Linked DNA regions of Homo sapiens: region 1 is linked to region 2. Evidence: fine-mapped expression QTL. A gene starts in region 2. The other region holds a variant in brackets. All regions are shown on one strand. Distances are between the middles of the regions. Region 1 has its middle 5.6 kb from the start of FGFR3. Region 2 holds the start of SLBP (stem-loop histone mRNA binding protein).

The links. PIP is the estimated chance that this variant, and not a neighbour inherited with it, causes the effect.
Region 1: its variant is fine-mapped to the expression of SLBP in whole blood (TOPMed, PIP above 0.99).

What each region holds. Positions count from the first base shown.
Region 1 is chr4:1,782,891-1,792,540 of GRCh38, reverse strand. No RefSeq gene overlaps it. Among named protein-coding and RNA genes, the nearest start is that of FGFR3, 5.6 kb to the left of the region's middle. RefSeq lists a cis regulatory region at 6,279-7,653. The variant G/A (reference allele first, on the strand shown) is at 5,634.
Region 2 is chr4:1,707,926-1,717,575 of GRCh38, reverse strand. SLBP (stem-loop histone mRNA binding protein) reads left to right here and starts at 5,257. Exons shown (of 8, transcript NM_006527.4): 1 at 5,257-5,446; 2 at 5,586-5,702. The coding sequence starts at 5,388. TMEM129 (transmembrane protein 129, E3 ubiquitin ligase) reads left to right here. Exons shown (of 4, transcript NM_001127266.2): 3 at 1-60; 4 at 148-1,624. The coding sequence ends at 396. RefSeq lists enhancers at 1,732-1,831, 2,142-2,211, 2,332-2,441, 4,421-4,710 and silencers at 4,841-5,750, 5,761-5,880.

The DNA of each region.
Region 1 (9,650 bases), 75 kb before region 2:
CCACGGGGTGGGCTCAGAGTCCAGCTGAAGAGGGGTGGGTTCCCAGGAGGGGAAGGTGCTGCCCTGCGGGGGACGCTGGAGGTGCCTGGGTCCCCTCACCCCACATGACTGTTGGCTTCTGTGTCCACCCTCACAAGGAAAAGGCCATCTGCTCCCACCTTCAGGCAAAGCCCAAGGAGGTCCGGGGCCCATGGGAGCCAGTGAGCTGGCCGGGAGGGCCGGCCGGGTGGGCTGCGTGCCTGGCTTGTGGCTTCCAGGACTGGAGGTGCTCATCAGGAAAATGGGCGCTGAAAGCCCCTCAGTGACTGGCTGCCTGCTGACCCCACCCAGCCCATGCACAGCCCCACCATGAATCTCCCAGAGGCCAGGGTGTCCCTGGGCTGACCTCAGGGACTTGGAAGGGCCCTGCTCCCAGGAAGCCCTCATGCCCACCCCTCTGTGCCGACTCGGTGGCTCAGCACCTGTCCTTGGCCACCCTCATTTCCTGCTCTGGCCAAGCCCATGTCCCCAGACCGTCTTGGGGCCCAGGCTCACCCACCTCCAAGTGCACTGTCCAGCCCCCTCCAGTGCACAGCCCCAGGTCACTGCCAGCCAGGTCCGCTCCCAGGACACCGTTCCCCAAGGCACAGCAGCACATTGGCCCTGCTCTTTTTTTTTTTTTTTTTTTTTTTTGAGAGGGAGTCTCGCTCTGTCACCCAGGCTGGAGTGCAGTGGCACAGTCTCAGCTCAAGCAATCTCTGCCTCCCTGATTGAAGTGATTCTCCTGTCTCAGCCTCCCAAGTAGCTAGGATTACAGGTGTGCACCACCACACTCGGCTAATTTTTGTATTGTTAGTAGAGACGGGGCTTCACCATGTTGGCCAGGCTGGTCTTGAACTCCTGACCTCAACTGATCCACCTGCCTCAGCCTCCCAAAGTGCTGGGATTGCAGGTGTGAGCTCTCTTAACCAACTAAGTCATCAGGTTCTGAAAGCACCAGCATGCGTGTGGGTCCTGACCTGACCGTCTTGCCCCTTCCCCTGGGGGACTGGATGGGACTGTGGGAAGGAGCTCACGCGTGGACAGGTCTCCCTCAGGGAACAGCTGCTGAGTGGGGCCCCTCCTGTAGGCAGAAGGGCTCAGTGGAGCTGTAGGCTCCTTTCCCAGTACCTCCAAGAAGGACTGACTCCCTCTGCACCCACGGCCACGGGTCTCTGGGAGGGGAGCATCCGTGCATCTGTGAACACATAGCTTTCTGCTTTCTTCCTCACCAGGATCCTCTCCTTGGCAGAAATGCCCAGTAGGGGTCTGGTCCCCATGTGTCCCTTCCCCAGCCCCTCTCCCATTTGTCCTTGAAAGCCTGATCCTACAGACCCTATCTCTGAGGGTCCCTTGCTCTCCAGCTTCTGGGTGGGTTTGACCAGTGGGCAGTGCTGGCAGGAGGAGGGACTGGGGACCAGGCACTTTCACAACCCACTCCCTCCCTTTGTCCCCGCAGCCCTGGCCCAGGCCCACCACCTCTCCCTCCAGTAGCAGCCGGGGATTCCTTAGTTCAGTAGCATCTTGTATTTCTAGGTTGCCCTCACAAATTACTGCACACTAATTGACTTAAATTTACTTTCTCATAGTCTGGAAGAGCAGATGTCTGGAATCAAGGTGTAGGCAGGGCTGCACTGCCTCTGAAGGCTCCAGGGAAGATCTTTCCTGCCTTTTCCAGCTCCTGGGGGCTCCAAGTGTCCCAGGGCTCCAAGTCCCTTGGCTCGCAGCCTCATTGCTCCAGCATCTGCTTCCCACTCTGCCATCTTCTCTTCCATCTCTTATACAGACACTTGTCGTTGGATATAGGGCCCACTTGGATAATCCAAGAGGATCCCCCATCTCAAGATTCTCACCTTAATTACATTTGCAAAGATCCTTTTCCAAATACGGTCACGTTCACAGGCTGCAAGGGGTGAGGACATGACTATGTCTTTTGGAGGCCGCCGTTCTGCCCACTACGCACTGCGTGGCAGCTGCCTCCTCTGGCGCCCTCCACATTCTGAATGGCTTCTCCAGTGGCACTGTCTGGGAGCAGTTAGGTCAAAGGGCAGGAGCATTTCCGTGGTGCCGCTAATTTTGCCAAATTGGTTTCAAAAGGGTCCTAGTGCCGCCACGGCCACCAGCAAGGAGTTGCTGCCCACTCTGCCCCAGGACTGTCAGGGCCACGGGAGGTCTTGCCTGAAAGCTCGGTTTAGTATTGTCTGAATAATTGTATTGTTCAAATGGATCACTTCCAAGCCCACAGGTGCAGATGGCATTCCCCCGACACTGAGGTGAGGCCAGGCCGGCTGCTTGACTCCTGAATTTCGGTGACTCTGCACATTAGCTGTCAGTAGCCACAATTTCATCACAGTGCCCTTGCTCAAGCGTTTCCACAGACCCTTTGCAATATTACCTGGCTTCATCCTCGTGGCACCTGATGAAGTAGGCCCTTCTGGGGCCTTTGAGGCAGGGAGGGCAGGCGAGGACTCGGGGAGCCTGTTGAGGGTCCGCATGTGCAGGAGGCTCCAAGCAGGTGCCGGCCGGACAGGAACTTCCCATCTGCTGGACTCCGGTTTACACCTCCCTACCCACTCCCCCTGCACCCCCACCCACCTCCTGAGGCCCATACCCAGGGGTCCCCCCTGAAGGTGAGTATGGGAGGCAGGGGCCGAGACAAGCGGCGCGTGCGGCTGACGGCCCGGCCCAGCCCAGCCCTGGCGGTGACTCAGAGCTGGGCAGCCTGGCTTGCTGGGGCCTGCGTGGGTGAGTGGCAGAGGGTGCCTGGGAGGGAGGCCCATCCTGGGTGCAGGGCCTCCGCAGGTTGCCCATGGCCCCGCTCACACCCGCGTCTCCTGCGTCTCCCTTGCAGGTACTCGGAAAATGGCAGAGGCGCCTTCGGCAGAGAGGACATTCCCAGCACAGTCTCAGATCCACACCGCCTGTTCCCCACAGCACTCCGGGCAGGCAGCTGCCGCCTTTCCCGACAGGGAGGTGGGCAGGGAGGCCGAGGCTTGGAGACCTGGAACCCAGGGCAGGCGAGCTGCCAGAGAGAGCCTCCTGCCCAGCTCCCCTCTGGGATCAGAACCTGGCCTAGGGCTGGGGCTGCTGCGGGGAGCTTCCCTCGGCCCTGCCATGAGGCTGAGTGGAAGGACAGGGGACACGGAGGTCCGGAGTGGGTATCAAGTCCCTTCTGCCCATGGGACCCCCTGGGAGCCATGCGATCTCCCCTCGGAGCTCCCCATCTCCTACCACCTTCCCCAGGAACCACTAGTGCCCTTCCACACTGTCAGGGCACAGGGTTGGGTGCCAGGGATCAGGGCAGGCCACCATGGGATGGAGGAAGAAGGGCCCCTGGGTAGCCCTGCTGAACTGGACTGGGCTGTTAGTGGGGCTATAGCTATTATAGTTTATGGGTAGTTTCTGCCTTCTATTTTATTTTTGAGACAGGGTCTTACTATGCTGTCCAGGCTGGTCTTGAACTCCTGGGCTCAAACAATCTTCCCGTCTCAGCCTCCCAAATACAGGCATGTGCCACCATGCCTGACTTTGCCTTTTAAATTTATTCTCACAAAATTTGAAAAGTATTAAAATAAAAAAACAAACCTTGATTTGCTCATTATAACAGAAATGAAATTTTAAAGAACGTGAAGAAGAAGAAAAAATATTCCAAAATCCCTAAGCCAACGCAGCTAGCAAGACCCTTAATTTTAGCTCTGAGCTTCCTGGCAGGCTGAGGAAAAAGGGTAACACCGTGAGTCATGAGCTGCTGGGAGCCTGTCGTCTTGGATATGGCAGGACAGTCCCAGTTCAAACATTCTGGCCTTTTTACCGTTTGGTTCACTCAGACCACTAGACCTCAAGTTCTGACTTTGGTTTGGAAAATGTGGCTGCTCCCAGATGAGCAAAGAAAGGAAACCAGAGCTGTCTGCAGACACAAGAGAGAGCTGTAGAGATGGGGGCGGGGGTGAATGTTCAGGCTCCCCCTGGGCTCCTGCCCCAGCCTGGGAGTGGGGGAGGCCCAGCTCCCTGCCTGGAGTCTGGCACAGGAGGGCGGCTCGAACTGTGCGGAAGCAGCAGGAGGTGGTGGTGGGGTCCCCCACAGGGGTGGGTGGGGCGGGCAGTGGAGGGCTGGCCAGGGAGGGGTTAAGGCTGGGCAGCTCCCAGGATGGCGGGGGCCAGGCCGGTAGCCGCTGAGCAGCTCAGAATCTATTTTCCTAAGCACTTGGCATTTGCCTGAAACCTCAAGTGTATTTTCCCTAAGTTTTATTTTTTCTTTGACCCCAAACTCTGGTAAATTTAAAGGAAATTTAATTATGGTGTTTTGGGTCCATTTACACTTAAACCCTCTCAGCATTTTTTCCAAGACCCTTTTGGAGTTCAGCACGCCTTGGGAGCCTTCTAAATGAGCGTTTTTATTATTATTATTTTTTGAAAAGGCTTCACTCCCCACTTCTGCCCCCCCAGCACCAGCCTTCCTGCCAAGAATAAACAAGCCCCGACTCCACAGGCTCCGGCTGAATTAGGAATCCAGGCCTCGGGGCCGCCGGTCCAACCCCACGTCACACCCTCCTCCCTCCGCGGCCTCCGCCCTCTTCAGGATGCCCCTTCCTCTCAGCCCTGCCCGCCACTCCGGGTGTCACCTGGCCAGCCTCGGCCAGAGCCCCTTCTCAGGGCCTCGCCTGGCCACCCTCTGCCTGCCCGTCCCCAAACCATGGACAACGTCAGTCGTGCTTCCGGCCAGGGCCCAAGAGTCCAGAGTGGCCAACTGGGCCCAGCAGGCAGCTGCCCACGAGAGGCTGGAGATCCCGTCCAGCCCAGCCGGGGTGTGGGGACGGCCCCACCCCCACAAATGGGTTGGCTTGGGGCAACCCCACACCCTGTGTGGCTGAGAACCTGTGGATGGCAAGGTGCGGAGTGCTGGTGGCTCCTGACAGAAACTTCATGCCAGCCACATCACCAACACCCACTTGACAGGTGGGGAAACTGAGGCACAGAGCCACAGGCAGCAGGAGGCGCTCAGTGGCCTGATCTGACAGCCCTGCCCCAGGGAGGTTTCAGCTGAGCTTGGGAAGGGTGGGGTGTTCGCCACAGTATTTAGGGAGACCCGAGAGTGGGCCAGAGCCCCCTGCCCCAGGCCAGGTGCCCAGCGGCATGAGGGAGGGCAGCCCTGCCCCACCCGGCCCCACCCGCAGCCACTGCAGGGCGCTGCCCCCGTAAGGCTGCATGGGGCTGACTAGAGGAGGCAGCTGTTTGGCTCTGACCCCCTGGGCGGCTTCCTCGGGAGCCCTGCCTCCAGGTGCAGCCTTCAGCCCGGCCCCCACCCGGCACGCTCAGCAGGGGCACAGGGCCCTGATGCTCGGCCCCAGAAGCCGGCAGATGATGGCGGAGGCTGCGGCCAGAGGCCCTTGGCCTGGGAGTGGGGTCGGGAGGCTCCGGGCTGCAAGTGCAAAGCCTGATGTCTGAGGCGGGTCCTGGTGGGCCCGGAGGACCTCGCCCAGTTCCAAGGTCTTGGGTAAGAGGCACCTGCTGGGGGCCTCAGTCTCCCAAGCTATGAGGGACTCTATTCACGCCTGCTGAGAGGGCAGTGGGGAGAGCAGGGGCAACCTCCGCAAGTGCCCAGGAGGAGATGGCCC[G/A]GGCGCCAGGGCATGCCAGGGAAGGGGCGTGGCTCTGGGGACTCCAGCTCTGGGGGAATCTGGGAAAGAAGGCCCTGGCCAGGCCCTGATGATCGCAGACCTGGGCCACCCTCCCCAGCCCTCTCCAGCCCTCAGGAAGTGGGGCGTGGCTGGTCCCTGGAGACCTCCCCTAGCCCAGCTGTTGACCTGTCAGAAACAGAAGCCACCTCTTGCCAAGGTGAGGGCCTGGCTGGCGTCTTGGGCCCCTTGCTGCGGTGTGCGTGGGGCCTCGTCTGCCCGGATCCGGCAGGGCAGTCAGGGTGAGGGCCGAAACCAGCGCCCCTGCAAGAAGCCTGCTCTGGCCCCAGCCTCCCGGGGGTACGGAGCTTCTGCAGGTCCCCCAGCCCTTATGCTTCCTGCCACCTGCTCCCACAGAAGCCCTCCTGCCACTCCAGCTCAGCCGCAGGCACTGGGAAGGGGAGTCTGTTGAAGCCACAGGGTTGCCCCATTTTACAGCTGGGTATCGTGACGCACCTCACACGAGGTATATTCTAACAGCCGTTGGCTGAGGGTCTGCTGAGGCACTGGGTAGAGCGTCCCCCAGTGCTTCCGCTCAGCAGGGAGATGTGGGCCGTGGGTGCCTTAGGAGGCTGGCAGGGCTGGGATGTCAGCGCCGTCGACACCTCATCCCTGTGCAGCTCCCAGCCACGCTTCCACCCTCCCTGACCACCTGTGGCCAGCCCCACGCTCTGGGCTCCTCCATCTATGGGCCTGCCTTTCCAGGGACCCAGTCCCAAGGCTGACTGGGGCCCTGATGGACAAGACGACCCTTTCTGCCCCAAGCTTGGGGCCACCTCTGCCTCCAGCTCTCGGAGTCCCCAGGGCTGGGCAGGACAGTGGAAGCAAGGTCTGCAGCCCCTAATAGAGACATCTTCGCCTCCTGAGGCCTCCCTTCCCCGCCACGCCTGCCTGCCTCCCCCGGCCCCAGTCTGCTGACAGCTTCATTGTCCACTGACCTGGGCAGGGGAGGGACCGAGGGCATGGGGGTGCTGACCGGCGCCAGGCAGAGGCAGGCGCCCGGGAGAAGGTGCCTACGCAGTGTGCACCCAAGCCACACATAGCTGGTGCCCACGCCTATGCCACACCTGTGCCCACACCTGTGCCACACTATAGCCCTGGTCAGACAGGGCTGCCCAAAGGGCCTCAAACCTGCTGAGCCCCAGCTGGGGAGTGAGGGCCTCAGGGGCCTCCCAGGGGCACAGTGAAGGGGATGGGAACTGGGGGGCGGGGGAGGTGCCCCTTCCCAACCAAAGGGGACAGAGAGCTGGACACAGAGGCTGGGGCTGGGGAGGCTTTGAAGGCAGGGTGAGGACCAGCAGGTCCTGGGGTGGGGGCACATGGAGTGCCCGCCAGGCCTGGGCTCAGACTGCACCCACCCAGCTTGCAGCTGAGCAAGGACCGGTCACTGTCAGGGCCGGAGGGGCAGGGCAGCGCACACTCGGGAGGGCGGGTTGACCAGAGCCTTGGGTCCCAGGCCCGGGGTTATCTCAGGATGGGGGTCTGTGTTGCCTCAGTGTGGATCAAAGGGGCAGCTTATCAGGCCAGCCAGGCCAGGGCTGGCTTCCCACGGCCGCCCTTCCGCCCGCCCAGCTCCCCTCCCTGCTCCCAGCAGCCTTTGCTCCCTGCGCCTCCCTGCCCATGGGGACCTTCCACCCTCCCTTCTCTGGGATGCCTTCTGAGGCCTGCCCAGGCCCTGTGGCTCTGAGGCTTATCCCCAGATTCACCCCTCAAGGATCTGGTCTACAGCCAGGCCATGACTGACCCCCAGGAGTGGGCAAGGAAGCAGCCTGCAGGTCTAGAGTGGAGGGCCACAGGGATCGCTCCCTGGATGACAGGTCCGTTCATCTGGAGGCAGAAGGCAGGGCAGGCAGAGCGCATTCAGGCAGCGGCAGCTGTGTGCCTAGGGACCACAGGCAGAAGGCACTGGTTCTAGGGTGTGAAACCGCTGGGGCTGGGTGGCCACATCCCAGGGGGGCACCCACCCTCTCAGAGGACATGCCCAGGGCACATGGAGCCATCCAGGTGCCCCTGTGGAGCTGCTTTGGGCCCAGGGGATTGGTGTTGCCAAAGAGAAGCTCTGGGAGCCACTACACCAGTGCCACCCGCCTGCCTGGGCATGGAAAACTGGGTCAGAGCAAGGCTGGGCAGGCTCCCTGTGCCAAGGCCGCCGCCTTGCTGTGCCCAGCCAAATGGGCATCCACAGCCAGGGCAGGGGCTTCAGGTGGCAGCACAGCCTGGGGCCCGAACCCGTGCCTGTGTGCTCACATGGTCACGTGTGCATGTGCTCTCACGTGTGATTGTCCTAGGGACACAAGTAATGTCAGAGGCTTCAGCTGACAGCCTTGGCTCAGGCCCCACATGCCCCGACCTGGCTCCAGACAACCTGTTGCCAGTGTGGTGTCCAGGATAGCCGAGTTTCCAGGCTAGCCCACAAAAGCTGCGTGCCCCAAGTGTCCTGCCCAGCTCTGGCCAGCTCAGGAGAAGGCCCCTGCCTGTGATCCTTGTATCTCCGGGGCTCGGGGAGATAAGTGAGTCAGAAGACAGGTGAAGAAGCTCAGCTTCGGGAGGACAGCCCCTGCCCTGGGTGCACAGCAAATCAATCATAGTCGCTTCCTGGCTGAGCACCTCAGGACTGCCCATCAAGCACCCTCCCTTGGGTCAAGCTCGTCCTGCCTCCCAAGCAACCCCCAGCTTGCTGCACCAGGACACACCCCCATCTTCCGCATGGCTGCCTCAGAGAAGCTGCCAGGGTTCCGCAAGAGCTGTGCCTTGGCCTTGAGGCTGGCCCGGCCGTGTGGGGCTCATTAGCCCTCGAGGCTCATCCTCCTGGCGGTGCAGGAACTGCAGGACACTGTCACGGGCACCTCAGGACTGAAGCCCTGGGCCCCATACCCCTGCCCAGCCTCTAACCTGGTTCCTGGAGGGCAGGGACTGAAGAGAGGGACGGGCTGCAGGTGACCCCCATCCTGGGTGCCAAGGGTAGAGGCTGAGCCGTCTGCCCACCGAACCCTGCTGCACCACTCTCTCCTGAGCATGGGGCACCTTCTTTCTCTCTTTGCCCTGGCTGCCAGGAAGCTCAGACCAAGCCAAGGGTCCAAGGGCAGGCACCTCCCTCCACAGAGTTTCTTCATTCCCCACTTCCTCCCTGGCCCCACAGAGGCCTGGGCTTGCCTGGGCTTCCAGCCCTGCCTTGGGGCAATCTGTGCACCTGCTGGGCAGGGTCGGTCCACCAGCTGCTGCTGGCTCTGCGGTCCTCCCAGATCCACCCCACTGAAGAGCAGGGGGACGGGCAAATCTCCAAAACCAGGGGCTGGTGAGTCTCAAAGAGACCCCCCATCCCACCCCCATCCCACCCCCATCCCGCCCCCATCCCGCCCCCATCCCTGCCCCTGCCCACCCACCCCTTACTGCTGGAAGACCCTTAGCTCCCCCGAGACAAAATGGTCCTGTGCCTGGACCTCCCCCCGCTGCAACGTTGACATTGTGACCCCACCACAGCATGGCAGGACCCCCAGGGCGGCCCCACACACCCTCTCCTAAGGATGCCCTGGACTCAAGTTGCACGGCTTGTGCATGCAGGCCCGTGAGGGGTGCAGACATGGCACTCCGCCCAGAGAGCTTATAGGACCCCACTGCTTGCTACTGTGGAGCTCACAGAACTGGTAGTGCCAGAAATTGGCTTGGGCAGGTGGAGACTCGACAGCCAGCCTGTTCCCCAGGGCCTCTCTGTTCAGGTTCTACCCAGACGCCCTGCACCCCCCCCCCCCACCTGTCTCCATTGCTCTCAGACAAGGGGCTGGAGGCGCTGGACACCTGCTGGCACCATACACCCGGAAAGACCCAGCAGGTCCTCTGGCCCCCTTTCCTGCATGCCCCATGCTCTGCTCTGAATGTCGTGGACTGCAGGCTCCATCCTGGGGCCCCGCTGTCATCACCCCGTCTGTCGTCAATGGCCAGGCCCCATCATAACCTGGCTCT
Region 2 (9,650 bases):
CTGGAGACATTTGCCTCCCTGGTAGAGGTCAACCCGGCCTACTCAGTGCCCAGCAGCCAGGTGGGGGGCCTGGGCCAGGGCCGGGTGGATGGGTGGGTGCCCACGGGTGTCTGCCTGGGCTCCTGGTGACGCTCCACCTGCCCGCAGGAGCTGGAGGCCTGCATAGGCTGCATGCAGACACGTGCCAGCGTGAAGCTGGTGAAGACCTGCCAGGAGGCAGCCACAGGCGAGTGCCAGCAGTGTTACTGCCGCCCCATGTGGTGCCTCACCTGCATGGGCAAGTGGTTCGCCAGCCGCCAGGACCCCCTGCGCCCTGACACCTGGCTGGCCAGCCGCGTGCCCTGCCCCACCTGCCGCGCACGCTTCTGCATCCTGGATGTGTGCACCGTGCGCTGAGTGGGCTGGGGCCTTGAGGTGACTCTGTGTCTCCCCCCAAAGCCACAGGGCAGGGAAGGGGGTGGCTGGGCCTCCTGGCTGGCAAAGGGCTCTACTTAAAGCACATGATGTAGAGCAACTCGCCTCTGCCCTGGGTCTGCAGAAGGCTGAGGACTTTTGGTTAAAAGCAATCCTCATGAAAACACCCCACCCTGCTTGGCAGCCAGGGTACAAGTCCTGGGCACCTCCTCTTTGCCTCCCTCCTGCCCCTTTCCTGCTGGTGGGGGCAGATCCTGCACACACAGACACAGCGTCTGCCCCCGAGCCATTCCCTGGAGACCCTGGGTCTACCCCAGGTGGTCGTCATCTGGGCCATTTGCCTTACTTCTCTGGAGCATACCCACCCTCAGTTACGTGCCAGACCTGGACCGCATTCTCCTGCCCTGTCCTGGAGCTGGCCCCTGGCTGCCTGGAGGACCCTGGGTAGGTCCTGAGGGTGGGATGGAGAAGAGGGCACTGCTGTGGTGTGGGAGCAGTCCTGGGGCTTCCTGGTGGCTGTGACCAGTTGAGGGGCTGTTCCTGGGTGGGGTGGCAATGGGAGGACAGGTCAGAGCGCCCTCATTTGTGGGGCTGCCCCTCCGGGTTTCTCATCCTGTCCTTGGTGCCTTTTTCTGCCCAACAAGTCCAGGGAAGGCCGAGGTCTCAGACTCCTGGGTAGGGGTGGGGGTTTGAGTTGAGGACCAAAGTGCCATAGCGACATCCAGAACACAAGCCCACCAGGGGTCCAGCCCAGGCTACCCACTCCCCTAGGGTCTCCCAGGCTCAGAAGGGGATGCACGCCCCCTGTGGTCAAGCCTCTGGTGGGCGTCTTGCCCAGTTCCTGATGGTTCAAGGGGAGGGGGGATGTTGGCCAGGCCCCAGGGCACAGCCCTGACACAGGTGTGGCTACTGGAGGGGCCTTCATACCTGCGGCCCCAAAGCCCCTGGGCTTGGCTGTTTGAGGCAGAGGTGATGGACTCCGGGGGCCTGACACTTGGGATTTGGGAGGCTTCCTAGAGCGCTCAGCAGGTGAAGGCAGCAGGGGCCATGGCCGGGAGCCAGGCCTAGCTTTGAACTGAGTTTCAAGGGCTGCCAAAGAGGGGCAGTGGGTTGGGGTTGTTTTTACTACAAAATAAGTTACTTAGTTTTATAAAGACAAACCGATTGTAGCCAAATGACACCATATTTAATAAAATTTAGTCTGAAGTGATGTACTGTGTTTTGTGTTGCCCGATATTAAAACCAAACTTTTGTCATAGTTGGAGAATGGCCTGTGGGTATTGGAGAAGCCACCTTAGAGGTGGAATTGCGTGCGTGGCGTGCTTTGTTCAGAATAAGGAGGAAAAACCCATTGGTTGGGAGGCGGGTACAGTAGGAACCTTCCCCTCTGATTTCTGGTTAGGGACTCTGGGGTCTTGAGAACCCCTGACCCAGGGCCCTCTGCAGGAGCAGGGTGGGAGGGGCAGAGACACGTCCTGGGGGAAGTCACTGTGTGGTCGCCACTGCGGCTGCTTCCAGATGCAGGAACTGATGTGGGGACACATGGGTAGCCAAGGAGTGAGCAGCCTTTCCGGTTCACTTATGTTTGCAGCTGCGTCCTGTGAGGACACCAGGCTGTCTCTACTGACCTCACTGTGGGTCAGGGTGGCCCAGGAATTGCCAGCCGAGCACCTAGGGCAGCCAAGACAGCAGCCTGGGGTTCCCCACAGCACTGGGCCCTCAGGTGAGCACCCCAGCAACCGGACAGTGAGTGCTTGCTGCCTTTTCCCCATTCTGCTTCTTGACCCACAGGATGGTTCTTGGGGAAACAGTACACGTAATCCTATTGAAAGATATGACAGTGGGCTCTAGTTTCCTGCGCTACGAGTGTCTTCAGATTCTTTCCAGCCTGGTACTTTCACTGGCATTCTTTTGCATACACAGCCAGGCGCTGCTTTAACCAACAACAGAGATCCAGTGAGCATCTACTGAGGGGCTGTTATGGGCCCTGACTGTGCCAGGCCCTGTGACTCACAGGTACTTGGGACTCTTTGGCTCTGTACTGTTAACTTAGAGAAGAGTTTATTTCTTCTAAAAAGTTACAGCCTGACGAGAATCGCTTGAACCTGGATAGCAGAGATTGCAGTGAGCCGAGATCGCGTCACTACACTCCAGCCTGGGCGACAGAGTGAGACTGTCTCAAAATAAAAATAGTTAACAGCCTGCAAGATGGCCATCCCTCAGACTGGAAAGCACAGCCTCTGGCCAAGACCAGAGATGGGCACTTCAGAGGAGGAGGAGGAGGGGTTGGGGCAGGAGGTTTATGCTGAATGGGTTGGCTAAACATGCATATTCAGCAGGTGACAGGAGGAGCTATGAATATTCATGAAGGCAGTCCTGACGCATGCATCCTGAACAAACATACAATCCACATTCACTTTGGGGTGGAGACTTAACATTTAAAATGTATTATAATGAGGTTCTACACAGGCCAGAAGTGGTCCATCACTGTGGTCTCTTATCTGGACCAAGTTACTGAAATCAGTCTCTTGTCCAATGAAACTGTAGTTATGGCTGGTGGAATAGGGGCTGGGGGATCAGTCAGCATCCGGTGGAACTGCAAATTGGTTTTTATTGTTTTGAGACAGGGTCTTACTCTGTCGCCCAGGCTGGAGTGCAGTGGCGCCATCTGGGCTCACTGTAGCCTTGACCTCCCAGGTTCAAGGAATCCTCCCACTTCAGCTTCCGAGTAGCTGGGATCACAGGCACACACCACCATGGCCGGCTAATTTTTTTGATTTTTAGTAAAGATGAAGTCTTGCTATGTTGCCCAGGCTGGTCTCGAATTCCTGAGCTCAAGCGATCCTCCCACCTCAGCCTCCCAAAATGCTGGGATTACAGGTGTGAGCCACAGTGCCTAGCCTTTTTGTTTAAGTTTTTTGTAAAGATAGGGTCTCGCTGTTACCCAGGCTGGTCTTAAACTCTGGACCTGAAGCAATCCTTTTGGAGGCTTCAGCCTCCCAAAGTGTTGGGATCACAGGCATGAGCCATCATCTCGGCCACTGCACTGTTCCAATATTGCTTAGCTCAAGGCCAGTGCTTATTGAGCTACTAAGAGGAAAAGAAAAGCAGTGTGGCAGTAGGAATATAGTTTAAATGTAGGGTGTGTGACTTAACCCTTGCCTGGCATGACCTTAGGTCCTATTCATAATTTGGTATCTTATTGCCACTGGTGTCCCCTTGACCGCAAGGGGGTCCATTCAGTTGTTGGGGGCTTAGGATTTTAATTTTTTTTGAGACAGAGTTCTGCTCTTGTTGCCCAGGTTGGAGTACAGTGGTGCAATCTTAGCCCACTGCCTCCCGGGTTCAAACAATTCTCCTGCCTCAGCCACCCGAGTAGCTGGGATTACAAGCATGCGTCACCATGCCAGGCTAATTTTGTATTTTTAGTAGAGACAGGGTTTCTCCATGTTGGTCAGGCTAGTCTCGAACTCCCAACCTCAGATGATCCTCCCGCCTCGGCCTCCCAAAGTGTTGGAATTACAGGCATGAGCCACCGCGCCCTGCCAGGATTTTATTTTTAGTTTACAGTGTTGAGGGTTATGGGATGCCCAGGGCCTGGGGAGGAAGGGGACAGGATGTGTCCGTCCTAGTCTGAGGATGACTTTTTTGAGTTCAAAAGGGGGCGGTGGACGCACCAAGGCACAGTCCTGAGGGCAGCAGGTGCAAAAGTCCGGCCCTCCCAGAGGTGTAAGGCCTTAGAGGGATCCCAAGCATCCCTGGGGCTCAGCCTCCTGGACCTGACCCCACTGCCCACTCTTTTGGCTGGTTCCACTCTCCCCTGCATCCCTCACGTTGTCCCCAACAGGAAGCTGTGGGAACCTGTTCTCAGGTGTAGTGCACCCGTTGGGGTTCTAGTTGGCTGGATCCGCGGGGCCGTCAGCTGCAACTGTGACGGCGGGGAAGCGGGACGGGATGGTGCGGATCTACAGGACCTCGCCTCCAGGTGGAACCTACCTGCTGAGCCAGGGATTCTTCAGGATACAAACCCAGTCAACTCCAGGCAGAGGGTGGGAGCGTCATGCACCGGCGACACAGTGGAGGACGTCATGGACGGGCAGGGAGGCAGCGGCAACCGAAACTAGCGGCTCAGTCGGTGGCCGGTGTGCGGTCAACGGCCAGGGCAGTGGGACCGGAAAGACTCAGTGTAGTTGTCAACTGTTGCGACCTAAAAGGTTACTCCAAAACTTTAAGCGGCTCAAAACAATAGACGGCGCGTACGGGGCCTGCAGCGGCCACGGGACCGTGGGAAGCAGTCAGTACCCGCCACAGGCCGCGCCTTCCGGGTTCCGGGTTCCGGGTTCCCGCCAGGGAGGAGACACGCCCCCACCTGGGCAGGAACCAAGCAGAGCCGCGCTCCACCCAGGCCGGAACCAATGGGAGATGCGCCACGACCCAGGCCGAGAAACGTGCCGCTTACCCTTCCCCCACGACCTGCGCCGCGTCGCGCGCGGCCGAATCTCCCGCCAAAGCTGCCCCCGCCCGCCAAGGCGCGACCTATCAGCGTCGCAGAGGCCCGCGGCGGCCCGGCCGCCTCAATCCCGCGGGTGGGGGCAACCTTTTCCTCAGGCCTCTCCTCAGCCCACGGCGTCCATCTGGCTCCCGAGCCGAGGGCCGGGCAGTCGGGCTTCGCGGCTGCCCGCGGTCCCGAGGCCTCGCCCTAGCCCCAGTCGGCTCGCGAGGCGCGCACAGCTGAGTGGACCCCTGCGGCGTGGCCCGATGGTCTCGCCCGACCCGGCGCGCGCGGGAGGCCGAGGGGCGGGGCCCGGCGCCCACATAAAGGCGGTTGGGGGCGGGGCGCGCAGAGCTCGTGAGCGCCGGCGCGGGGACGCGGGTTTCTGCCTCAGGCCCTGCCCTGCTCTACTCTGCGCTCTCTGCCCGCGCCGCCGCCGCCTCAGCCTCGGCCCTGCGCTGCGCGCCCGGCCCGTGCTGCCATGGCCTGCCGCCCGCGAAGCCCGCCGAGGCATCAGAGCCGCTGCGACGGTGACGCCAGGTGAGGCCGGGCTGCGCGGCGGGCGAGGGAGCGCGTGCCCCGTGGGGCGGGGGTTGTGCGGGGCCGGGGTGTGGGAGGGCGGAGGTTGTAAGGCGGTCCCGAACCTCCCGTGCCCAGCCGACCGCGTCCCTCCCCGCAGCCCGCCGTCCCCCGCGCGATGGAGCCTGGGACGGAAGCGCAGAGCCGACGGCAGGCGCTGGAGGCCCGAAGACGCCGAGGAGGCAGAGCACCGCGGCGCCGAGCGCAGACCCGAGAGGTGGGCGCGGGACCCGGGGGTCGGGGCGCGGTGGGGCCCTTGACGAGGCCGCGGGCTCCAGGGACCTCGTCGCGCTCTCGCGGTGCCGGGATCGGTCAGGTCGGCACCCTGCGTCCTTTTATCTTGGTCTCCGCGCGGCCCGTGGACTGGGGCGGCCGCAGCAGGCCTGGGAGGCGCTGGAACACTCCGGAAGCCTCTTGCCAGGATGGGAGTCAGCTGAACCGGCGTCAGCCCGAGTTAGCCAGTTCGAGTCTGTGTTGTGCTCCCGGGAGAGGTCAGGGTCTCTGACGAGCTTCTCGTGAACACGTGGAAGTCAGGGACACCCGAGTCCCGAGGAGAAGTGAGTTGACAGGGCTTACCTGCTTGGCCATTTTCTGGGTTAGGCAGTGTGCAGGGAGGGTGGAGATGCGAGCGAAAGGAGGGCTTGATGGGGTGGGACGGCCGAGGAGGGTCTGGAGGAAATAAGCAGGGGTGCCAGTGGTCGTAGTGGCGGGGCTTTTCGGGGCTGTGGTTAGAGAAAACTTCTCGAGGGGCTTTGGGGTGGCTCGTCCCGCACTGGGGGCTTGTTGCTCCTGAGTTCCCTGAAAGGCGTGGTGACTTGGCCGAGATGGAGCAGTGAAGGTGGAGGGAAATGCGTGGTTCGGGATAGGCTTCTGAAGGCAGGACCTGTGAGACTTGCTGATGGGTTGGGGATGGGAGGCGTGAAAGGAAAAAAAAAAATCGGACCCAACTTCACTGTGCCAAAAGGAAAAAATTATGCTGAGCGCGGAATCATGCAAGAAACTACCTTTGCGTTACTTTTTTTTTTTTTTTTTTTTTTTTAAAGACAGGGTCTCACTCTGTCTCACAGGCTGGAGTGCGGTGACGCGATCTTGGCTCACTGCAGCCTCCCCCTCCCGGGTTCAAGTGATTCTCCTGCCTCAGCCTCCCCAGCAGCTAGGATTACAGGCGCATGCCACCGCGCCCGGCTAACTTTTTGTATTTGTAGTAGAGACAGGGTTTCACCATGTTGACCAGACTGGTGTCGAACTCCTGACCTCAAGTGATCCACCCACCTTGGCCACCCAAAGTGCTGGGATTACAGGTGTGAGCCACCGCGCCCGGCCACCTTTGTGTTTCTTTTTTTTTTTCTAAGCAGATACCTACAGATACAAGATTAAATATCTCCACGGGTGAACTCTGTTCACTTTAAGTGGCGACTTACTGAGCACACTAGGAATACATAATTGACTATTCCCCTACCTGCTCCTTTTCTCTTGGAACATGTAGATCTTTCTCCTTCAACCTACTTTTCTCTTTTAAATATTGAAGCCCTGACAGTCATCTCTGGAGAAAGGCACAGACCACAGACTCTTTCTGTAATTTCGTGTTCTTCTAGGTATGTCCTTAACATTAGCTAAATTCCTAAAGCAATTGAGACCTGTCTCAGACACTTTTTGGTTTACACAGGAAAGAGGCATCAAGAATGACTCAAGCCTTTAGGTCTGAACGCTGTTGATTGGGGCCATTTGCTAAGATAGAGAAGATGGGCTGGAGCAGCTAGGCATGGGAAGTTGTGAGGCTTGAGAAGCTGCTTAGAGAAGCAAAGGAGATGTCAAGAAAGGTAACGGAGTGTAGGAGTCTACATGGGAGGCATCTTCAGGCACAGTGAGTTACCAGGACATAGAGATGATATTTAGAGACTTGGGTCTAGGGGGCTGGGCGCAGTGGCTCCTGCCTGTAATCCCAGCACTTTGGGAGGCCAAGGCGGGCCCATCACCTGAGGTCAGGAGTTCGACACCAGCCTGACTAACATGGAGAAACCCCATTGTTGGGGACCAGCCTCGACACTTACCCGGAATGAGAAGAGACAGGTTAAGAGCTCATAAAGGTGGGAGCCAGGGGACCAGTTGGAAAATGGAGGCTGCAAAAGGCCCGGAGTTGCGGTCTCCACACTATTTATTGAGTACAATCACTTTAAGAAGTAGGCCGGGCGCGGTGGCTCATGCCTGTAATCCCAGCGCCTTGGCAAAAGGCGGGTGGATCACGAGGTCAGGAGATGGAGACCATCCTGGCTAACACGGTGAAAACCCGTCTCTACTAAAAATACAAAAAATTAGCCGGGCGTGGTAGCGGGCGCCTGTAGTCCCAGCTACTCAGGAGGCTGAGGCAGGAGAATGGTGTGAACCCGGGAGGCGGAGCTTGCGATGAGCCGAGATCGCCCCACTACACTCCAGCTGGGGCAATAGAGCGAGACTCCGTCTCAAAAAAAAAAAAAAAAGAAGTAGATGTTCAGGGTGAAACAGTGAAAGGGAGGCAGGCGTCATAGGCGTAATTATAGCGGTTTCAATGAATCTCCTTTGTGCTCAAACAGCATATCTAACTTATTGGAGAGTAGCTAGTGGGAGCGGGCTTAACTAGGAGCCTGCAAATCTGTCCACATTCCAGTGCTTTAAAGGAATGTCTTTCTTCTTGAACACTGTTTACAGATAAGAGAGCAGGTCTCGCTCTGAGCATGGGAACATGATGGCAATTAGGAGGCTTTCCTCCTCAGAGGCCTCTTGTGGCTTTTCACAACTTACTGTGCCATATTTTTATGGCCAGCTTATACAGGCACTCGATAAGCCTTTTTCCCAACACCCCATCTCTACTAAAAATACAAAATTAGTCGGGCATGGTGGCGCATGCCTGTAATCCCAGCTACTCGGGAGGTTGAGGCAGGAGAATCCCTTGAACCCAGGAGGTGGAGGTTGCGGTGAGCCGAGATCACGCCATTGCCTTCCAGCCTGGGCAATAAGAGTGAAACTGTCTCAAAAAAAAAAAAAAGACAAAAGACTTGGGTCTACGGGTGGGTACAGAAGAGGCCCTAGGTCCAGATATGAAGGGAAGGTAAACAAACCTTATTGAGATCAAGCTCTGAACTCTCCAGTGGTCTCATTTAGCTGAAGATAAAAATATTAAATCCTTACAGTGCTTTAGAAGTTATGGAAGTTTTTGGTGTCCTCATTCCTCAAACTATAGGAATGCTTCTGTCCTAGGGCCTTTGCACTTGGTATTTGCACATTGTGGATAATGCCTGGAGGCACCTGACAAATAGAGCCAGCTCGTTGATGGATAAGATCTAGAAGTACTCTTTGGAAGGTTGTTAGCTTAGTGTGTAAAATTAGGCTTTGTTGTCCCAAGATAGGGTAGATTATGAATATAACCTACTTAATCTAAGAAATGGACTTAAAGATACCAAAATATGGCATGTAGTATATGGTCATTCACATACACAGGCTTTAAATTATTCTTGTAGTTCAGGAATTTGTTATGTTGGCAGACCCAGACTTGAACCTCTTGATACACTAGTGAGGATGCTTGTATCCAATCCTGGACAAACCTCTATTGAGTCAATTTAATTTTCAGTTAATTACCTAATTTGATTTCATAACTTTCTACCATTTTTAGAATCTGGAAATTTACTTTTAGAAATCCAATTTAAGTTTATCTGAGTTGTGTGACTGTAAGGGAAGAAATGATAATTACATAAGAGGATTATTCATTTGTTACTGCAATTGCATTTTCAAAGCACAGCATTTGGTTTACAGCTAAAATAGGTTGCTTATTTGTTGTAATTAAAGTTAGTATCTAGTGTATTTTTTTGTGACGGGGCATAACTGTCAACCAGGCTGGAGTTCAGTGGTGTGATCTCACCTCACTGTAACCTCTGCCTTCCAAGTTCAAGCAGTTCTCCTGCTTCAGCCTCCAAGTAGCTGGGACTACAGGCATGCGCCACCACGCCCGCCTGATTTTTTTTTTTTTTTTTTCGTTTTTGAGATAGAGTCTTGCTCTGTCGCCCAGGCTGGAGTGCAGTGGCGCGATCTCAGCTCACTGCAACCTCTGCCTCCCGGGTTCAAGCAATTCTCCTGCCTCAGCCTCCTGAGTAGCTGAGATTACAGGTGCGCACCACCACGCCTGGCTAATTTT